Regions from separate parts of the Homo sapiens genome. Here region 1 is linked to region 2. The links come from fine-mapping of genetic effects on gene expression. A gene starts in region 2. The other region holds a variant in brackets. All regions are shown on one strand. Distances are from middle to middle.

Region 1 (4,401 bases), 35 kb before region 2:
AGCCCCACTTGGGAACAGAGGGGACTGTGATCAACACCCACAAACTAATTCTATTCTTGCCAAATAGGTGATAAAGTCTATTGTTTCTGTAGTGCTGCAGGAGTGCAACTGCTGTCAACAGGCACATGTAACAAATGTGTAAATGGCACACCTTTTAAAACCATTATTTTCAATCGTGTACCCTTTATGTTTCATCCACCCCCTTATCTAAGCTGGGAGAAGGAGAGGGAACCATGTGTGGTGAAGAGTAGCTGAATTATTTACCTTCTTCAAGAAGCACTGTCATAGGACAGGGTTTAAGACTATAAACCTCTGGTTTAAAGTCTGGTGGTTACTATGCTGAAGATAGAATCTGTATATAGGTACTGTGTGATAGGCGTTACAAGTAATCTTTCAATTTGCTTATAATTGTGCCAGTTACAAGCAGAACAAAACTTAAGAAGGTTGGTTCATTTAGCCAGATGCCCATGTAGCTGAGACACAGTGCATCATAAAGATTATTGACTATTATTTCCCATCAATCCTAACACTACAACCAACATAGGATAATGGAGTAAAATCTTTTTTTTTTTTTTTTTTTTCCGAGACAGTCTCGCTCTGTTGCCCAGGCTGGAGTGCAGTGGCACCATCTCGGCTCACTGCAACCTCTGCCTCCCGGGTTCAAGCGATTCTCCTGCCTCAGGCTCCTGAGTAGCTGGGATTACAGACATGCACCACCATGCCTGGCTAATTTTTGTATTGTTAGTAGAGACGGGGTTTCGCCACGTTGGCCAGGCTGGTCTCGAACTCCTGACCTCAGGTGATCTGCCTGCCTCGGCCTCCTGAAGTGTTGGGATTACTGGCATGAGCCACTGCGCCCAGCCTATCAAATCTTTATAACTAAAACAGTTAGGTATTGGCACGTGAATAGGCAAATGAACTGACAGAATAAAACAGAAAATCCAGAGACAGACCCAATACATTAGGAAATTTAGTGTACATTAAAGGCCATCATCAGTGAGGAAAAGATAGACTCTTTAATCAGTTTGTTAGGATAACTGGACAGCTATATAAAAAAGATAAAATTGAGGTTGGCCGCAGTGGCTCACACCTGTAACCTCAACACTTTGGGAGGCCAAGGCAGGCAGATCACTCCAGTCCAGGAGTTCAAGACCAGCCTGGGCCATGTGGTGAAACCCGGTTGCTACAAAAACTACAAAAATTAGCCAGCCTTGGTGGCGGGTACTATTCCCCAGCTACTAAGGGGAATGAGGCAGGAAGATCACTTGAACCGGGGAGGCGGAGGTTGCAGTGAACTGAGATTGTGCCACTGCACTCTGGCCTTGGTGACAGAGAAATACCCTGTCTCAAAAATAAATAAATAAATAAATAATTTAAAGAGATAAAATTGAATGTATTCCTTACACTCTTCAGTATAAGAAATGAAACTGGTCAGGTGCGATGGCTCAGGCCTGTAAGCCCAGCACTTTGGGAGGCTGAGGCGGGTGGATCACTTGAGGTCAGGAGTTTGAGACCAGCCTGGCCAACATGCTGAAACCCTGTCTCTACAAAAAAATACAAAAAATTAGCCAGGAATGATGGCACCCACCTGTAATCCCAGCTACTAGGGAGGGTAAGGCAGCAGAATCATTTGAACCCGGGAGGTGGAGGTTGCAGTGAGCCGAGATTGTGCCACTGCACTCCAGCTTGGGCAACAGAGCTAGACTCTCTCAAAAAAAAGAAAAAAAACCACACAGGTACTAGAAGAAAACACAGGTGAATTTGTCTTTAACCTGGAAGACAGAGAAATCTTCCTAATTATGACTCAAACTCAAGAAGCAATACCTGAAAATATTGATACATTTGATTATACAGAATTTTCTTTTTCTTTTTGAGATGGGGTCTTGGTGTGTTGCACAGGCTGGAGTGTAGTGCCTAGTCACAGGCACAATTACAGAGCAACACAGCCTCCAACTCCTGGGCTCAAGCGGTCCTCCTGCCTCAGCTTCCTGTGGCTGGGACCACAAGCACATGCCACCACACCTGGTGAGATCATATCGAAATTTTTCAAAAAGCTTTTTCACGGTAAAATATGGAAACAAATACCTGAAACTTATATAACAGAGAAGTTGGTATCTCAAACATATAAAGAATAC[TA/T]AAAAAAAAAAAAAAAAAAAGGCCTAGAGATAAGAAGAGATAATTCCCATCGGAAGAAATGTAAATGGCTTTTAAACGTGAAAAATGTTCAACCATGCACATAAACAAGAGAAATGGAAATTAAAACTACACTGAAAAACCATTTCTCATGTACTAGACTGGCAAAAACACACAAGTTTGGACAACATCCTCTGTTGGCAAAGCTGGAGGGAAACAGGTACTTTCATAGGTTGCTGGGGAAAAATAAAATGGTGCAACCTTTATCAAGGGAGACTATCGCAATACCTCACATTTATACTTTGACTCTGCTATCTCATCTCTAGAAAGCTTTCCAACAGATACACTGAAAACACACACACATACACACAAATATAAGTCCCCAGGAATAGCTAAAGACTGAAAAAGACCCCAAATGTCCATCAATAGATGGAACGCATTATGGTACCTCCACACAGCAGAATAGTGCGCAGCTATAAAATGAAGGAGGAATACCTCTACACTCTGAAGTGATCACTTTAGTATATTAAGTAAAAAAAAAAGCAAGGTGAGGAAAAGTACTCTACCATTTAGCCAAGGAGGAGATACAAATATTTACATATTTATGTTGTATTTTAAAATGAAAGAATAAACCCTAAAAATAAAGGTTACCTATGGGAGAGGGAGACTTGGTAAAAAGCTAGCTGTGAGCTTAGACCTCTTTGACGATATCTTGCTGTATCCGTCTGTCTTGGAACTTTGTAAACATTTATATAATAAAAAACACACCAAAGCAACTTCTAAAAATCAAAAGTAAAATGAAACAAACAAATCTAACTATAAATCTAGTTGATGGCATAACCACACAGAGGAGAACTACTCCAAGTGACTTTAAAACACAGTAATTTGACTAGATTTCTAATACCCTAAGGACAGAAAGAACCACAAACCATCAGAGTTTCCAATAATTATACTGTGGGAGCGGTAGTGCTGGTCCTGTTACTCTGTTGTATGTACTGTGGGATAAATCAAAGGAGTAATTATGTTGAGGTAGTAGAGAAGTCAGATCTTTGGTGTGGTTGAAAGGAGATACAGGTACAATGATGGATTGGTTCTATCAACATGATTTCACAATGAAATTATCTTTACAAACATATACTTTACCCAGGTGCAGTAGTGCACGCCTATAGTCCCAGCTACCTGGGAAGCTGAGGCGAGAGGCTTGCTTGAGCCCAGGAGTTCAAGGCCAGCCTCGGCAACATAGCAAGACCTCGTTTCTAAAAGAATAAAATAAAATAAAAAAGACATACTTCCCAGCACTGTCTACTGAAAGAAGGGCCTAGAAACAATGAGCAGTAAGCACCTCTGGCTCCCAGACTGTGGTCTGTAAACATCAGGGCTTTTTGGAGAAATGGCTGAAACCAGACCCAGGGCAAGAAATGTACGAGGTGATCTAGGAATATCCTGAAACTCAAGGAAGCAATCAGATTTCTAGTGGCATGAAAAAGGGACTGACAAGTCCACCTGAATAAACTCCCACCAGGCATGGATGAAACCAAGCACATCACATACATTTGCGTCCACGAGTTTATAATGATACTTTTCAGAAAGCCATTTCTGTAAGACAGAAGAGATCCCCATATTGAAAACTGAGTAACTGAATTGATCTGGGCAGTAACTGTCAACAGCTGCTAACATTACAGAGCGATGAAGGCATTATGCAACCTTGACAGAGGTACTCCACCACTAGGAAGTGGTCTTGCCTCCCCACAAAACAAGCAAATTTTTAAAAACCCTGAATCTCCTAATTACTATTTGAAGAAAACACAGAGGTCAGAGAGGCATGTTAAACAATACTATGGGAATGAAATCATTAAAATCCAGATTGTGGGACACCATACATGAAACCATCCAATTTCTTCAGCAAAAAAAATTAAAGAAAAGCAAAAAAGAGATGAAGCAGAAAACTGAAGATTAAAACAAAGTAACAGATCAATCAATTGCAATGTATGGGCCTTGTATGAAACTGATTCAAACAAACTAAAAATAAACATACAAATACTTAAACATAAGTGTATATATATATTTACATCGATTATGGTGTATGCTAATAGGGGAAATATGACACATCTACATATATTTGATATTTAGGAATTACTGTCAGGTTTTTTAGGAATTGTGGTTTTCTTAGGTATCTGTAACTTAGAAATATGTACTAAAATGTTTACAGATGAAATGCTATGATGTCTGGGATTTGCCTCAAAATAAACAGAGGGCATGATGTGTATA
Region 2 (4,325 bases):
GGTTAGAGATGTCTGTGACTTCAATTCCCATGTGGTATGGCAGAATTCTCTGTGAGGCAGCCCTTCTGCCTGGACATACTTGAAGCATCACCTCAGAACTTGTTAGAAATGCAAATTATAAGGCCTCCCCATCAACCTCCTAAATCAGAAAGTCAGCAGACTGCAAATTCTCCAATGTTCCATGCTACAAATGTTCTGCCCAGGAAGGAGTGGGCAGGCATCACCACTCTCTCCTTCCCTTGGAGGAGAGACGGTATGTGAATCTCATTCTAGTTCCTCCTCTCTTAATCTTGATTTTTTTTCCTCAGATGACAATCCTTCCATCTCAAGAGTTCTGCTTCAGAGTCACCTAGAATAATATTAATAGAATTAGTTATAAGCAAGGAAGTACTCTTAGTTTTAAACTGGGAAGTACTGGAAGAAAAAAAAGACATCTTACCTGCCACAAAACATTTTTGCAGATGAAGTTTAAGGCTTCAGGTTAGGCGATGGGTTCAGAAAACCACAGAGAGGAAAAGCATAGCAAGAACCTGTAACCACTTTTTCAGACTATTAAACTCAAGGTTCTTCCCACTTATGCCATCATCCTGCCACTTTTTTCCTTTGATGACAATCAATAGGATACAAGAACTCTCCAAGGAGAGCCCACAGAGGAGGCATTTTACACACTTGAGCTCCAATCCTCACAACACTGTGAGATGGCTTATAATTTCCATCTCAGAAGGGAGGAAGCTACAGCTAAAGAGAGAATGTATGTCCTAGGTGAGTAAAGAAGCCAAGGTTATAATACAACTGAGCTACTCCAAAGCCTGCCCTTTTCTCTAAACTGCCTTCTATGACCCATAACTTTGTAAAAATCAGCTACCAGTTCTTAAACACTTACTGTGTCAAGTGTGTTTATAATCTCCATAATCTCCACTCCTTTGATCATTCTTCACAGAAAGTGCTAACACAGCATTTTCCTGATGAGGGGACTGAGGCTGAGAAACTAACTCACCCAAGGTTTTGGTGCAACAAGAGTAAAACTTGAAATGAAGTCAGGTTTCTAGCCCCGGATTCTCCCAAGGTAGCTGCTTTTGATACTAAAACAATGTGCCTCCCGGTGAAGGAAATGGGGATAATACTAATCACACTTATTTCTCTATTGTAATGAAAATCAAATCAGATTTGAGAGATATGGAATATGATGATGTTAATACTATGACGCTAATACATTTAACTCCAATTTAAGACATTCAGACGCCTGCCTCAGCTCAGATTTAAGACTATTCAATTTTGGGCAAGTCATTTAATCTCTTTCTGATCAGCTTTCTTGGCACTAACATGAAAGAACTGGACTAACTTTTAAGTTCCCTCCCAGCTCTGAAATTCAGTTTCTAGACATAAAGTATTACATACATAAATGAGTAAGAAAAATTGGGAAACACTTCTCAGCTTTATCTTTTTGAGGAGCTCACTTCTAGTACTCTTTCACGGTTTATCTTTTGGCATCTTCAGAGTTCTTCATATTTTTGTAGACAATGCAATAATTTCCAATAAAATGATACCTCATAGAGGATGCATACAATAAACATTCAGAACATACCTGCAAGTTTTATTTTTTATTTATTTTTTCAGACATGGTCCCATTCTGCCGCTCAGGCTGAAGTGCAGTGTGGTAATCCTAACTGCAGGCTGGAATTGCTGGGCGCCAGTGATCCTACCACCTCAGCCTCCCGAGTAGCTAGTACTACAGAGACACTACCATGCCCGGTTAATTTTTTTTTTATTTTTTGTAGATACGGGGTCTTACTATGTGGCCCAGGCTGGCCTGGAACTCCTGGACTCAAGCAATCCTCCCACCTGAGCCTCCCAAAACGCCGTGATTACAGGCATAAGCCACCATACCCAAGTTTAAGTTTTAAATGTGCAAAATATTTAGGGATATGTATCTCTCCCATGAATGATGAAAGAGAAGCAGAAAATATTTCTTAGTAAGTGAATTACTGGGAATTAAGACTATGATTGATACCTACAGCAATTTAAAAAGTTACTTCATTGTACCTATTAATACATGCAGAAAAAAATGTACTTGGATTTTATGCTTGCTACTTCCTCGCTCTTGAGTAAATTATCCTTTCTATGCATCAGTTTCCTCATCTGAAAAATAGGCATTCTAGTAATATATACCTCATTAGGCTGTTCTGAGGAATGTGATAATACACGTAAAATGCAGTCCCTGGCACACTGTAAATGTCTAACAAACGTTTGGCGGCTATTACTGGCGTTTCCCAGCCCGTTATTATTTTTTACATGTGAGCAAGTTAATTCAGAGGATTACTTCAAGAAACAAATACTTGAATACCTATCTGTCCAAGCAGCCGGGGTTACAGGGAATTCACTACATAAAGCCTCTGGTCTTACATTATATAGAAAGGCGATGAAGAGACAAGAAACAGGTTAAACAGAAAAACACGATAATTTCACACATAACCACTGCCATATTTAAAGCACTGTACACCGGCCCTCGGAGCCAGAATTCTTTCCCTCGAGGTTGCCCCAGGAATCCCTTTGACCTCTGCCATTGGACGTCACAGAAGGCGCGACTAATCGTGGCTGGCTCCCGGAGCTTCACTCTTCCCTCTCTTCCTGCGAAACTTGACACGCCATTTGTTTCTACGTCTGACATCCTCCTCTTTTCTCTGGTCCGTGGGAGCTTTTGCAAGCGGGACCAGGCCCCAACACCCGAACCAGCAGCGAGAGAAGGAGCCCGGCATGCGGCGACTCAGAGTGACGACACACGCGAGTCTCCGCCCGAGTACGTCACTTCCGCAACGCTTCCTTCGCGGGGCTTTGTGGGTAGCCGACTGGGGTCTCCTGGCGACGACCATGGCGGGGGATGTGGGCGGTCGCAGCTGCACGGACTCGGAACTGCTGCTGCACCCGGAGCTGCTGTCCCAGGAGTTCCTTCTCCTCACTCTGGAGCAGGTTGGGCGCGCCGGATCGGAGGGTGGGCGGGTGGGCCTTCCCAGGTGAGGCGCTTGCACCCGAGCTTGCCTTAAGTAGCCCTCGGCAACCACGGACACTCCCGCCGGGTTTGTGTCACTCTCCACCCACACAGACCAGGCAGCTGTCTCCTCGCTCCTGCTCCTCGCCCCCTCTCCAAAAATGAGACGTCCGTAGAATATCAGGAATGCTTGGGAAATAGGGCTTATCTATCTGAGTCCCGATGGCTTGTAAAGAGGAGTCCCAGGCGACACCCCCTGCCTGTGTGTAAGCCCCGACCTGAGGAAGAAAGAAGCGTGGAATAGACATGGAATGTAGAAATCATGGACTGTCAGGACTGGAAAGCATCTGAGAAACCGTCCATTCCACACCTTCTAATCGTTTAAAGATGATAAAAACAGTTCCAGAGAGATGAAGTGACTTGTTTAAGGTCACAACATCTGTAAATGGTACTTCCGGGAGGAGAATTCAGGGCTCCTGGCTCTCCATGTAGTGCGTGCTCTTTTCCAGCTGGTGTGGCCTCTGATAATAGGAGAAAAGTGAGAAAGGAAAAAAGTGATGTTTTAAGTGATAGAGAATTACTGGAAGTTTCCTTGGGGTTTATGTAGCGTATTTTGTTGTTTTTCATATGGCTTTCCCCTTAGTACCCTATCTTTGTTGAATTTCAGGTCCTCTTGCCACGTAGAGCTTAATTATGTCAGTAAGTTTTTACCTGTGGTTCTCAAACTTTTTAGGTACTTAAGAATGAGTCGAGGGACTTGCTAAAACACAGATTGTTGGGCTCCGTCCTCAGTTTCTCGTTCAGTAGTTCCGGAATGTGGCCCGAAATCTTGCATTTTTAACGAGCTTGTTGCTGGCCCAGAAAGCATGCTTTGACCACCACTGTCCTAAGGCAATACTTTCCAAAGTAATGGGCTTATGAATTCTCTGGGAACGTTGTCCAAGAGAATCCTGGTAGTTTCCCCTACTTCTGAGCGAGTACGGGCTAAAAATAGATGAGTCTAATATACGAAAGAGAAGTAAAATGTGCTTTTATTAGTTTTTGTTAGAGGATATAGGCTTGTCGGTGGTACTAAACACAAATGTTTTCAAGCCTTTCTGAGTTGAAATTGAAGAGCCTGTGATCTCATTTCCATTCTCATTTCTCCTTCTTAAATCCAAACTCTGTCTTCATGACTACTCCTGTGCTTATGCTATGTTTTTCATGATGTCAAGAACAAATTGGAAAATGAGGAAGAATTTGGTGATTTAGATAGAGATGGTTGGACAATGACTGGAAGCTTACTTGAAAGGACCAGTGAAAATGGGGTGCAGGCTTTTCTAATGATGTACTGCTACTG

Direction of the effects. Alleles are on the strand shown, and positions count from the first base shown. SD is a standard deviation of normalised expression in the study named.
In carriers of allele T in region 1, the expression in subcutaneous fat of the gene that starts at base 2,774 in region 2 tends to be lower than with TA alone (small effect, 0.34 SD a copy in FUSION).

What was found. PIP is the estimated chance that this variant, and not a neighbour inherited with it, causes the effect. A credible set is the group of variants that fine-mapping cannot tell apart.
Region 1: its variant is the best candidate, but not a certain one, in a credible set for the expression of C2orf49-DT in subcutaneous fat (FUSION, PIP 0.82).

The regions. Positions count from the first base shown.
Region 1 is chr2:105,299,874-105,304,274 of GRCh38, forward strand. All of the region lies in intron 2 of TGFBRAP1 (transforming growth factor beta receptor associated protein 1), which reads right to left. Among named protein-coding and RNA genes, the nearest start is that of TGFBRAP1, 28 kb to the right of the region's middle. The variant TA/T (reference allele first, on the strand shown) is at 2,136.
Region 2 is chr2:105,334,720-105,339,044 of GRCh38, forward strand. It overlaps C2orf49-DT (C2orf49 divergent transcript), which reads right to left and starts at 2,774. Exons shown (of 2, transcript NR_187479.1): 1 at 440-2,774; 2 at 1-349. It overlaps C2orf49 (chromosome 2 open reading frame 49), which reads left to right and starts at 2,821. Exons shown (of 4, transcript NM_024093.3): 1 at 2,821-2,967. The coding sequence starts at 2,869. RefSeq lists enhancers at 2,464-2,853, 2,864-2,913.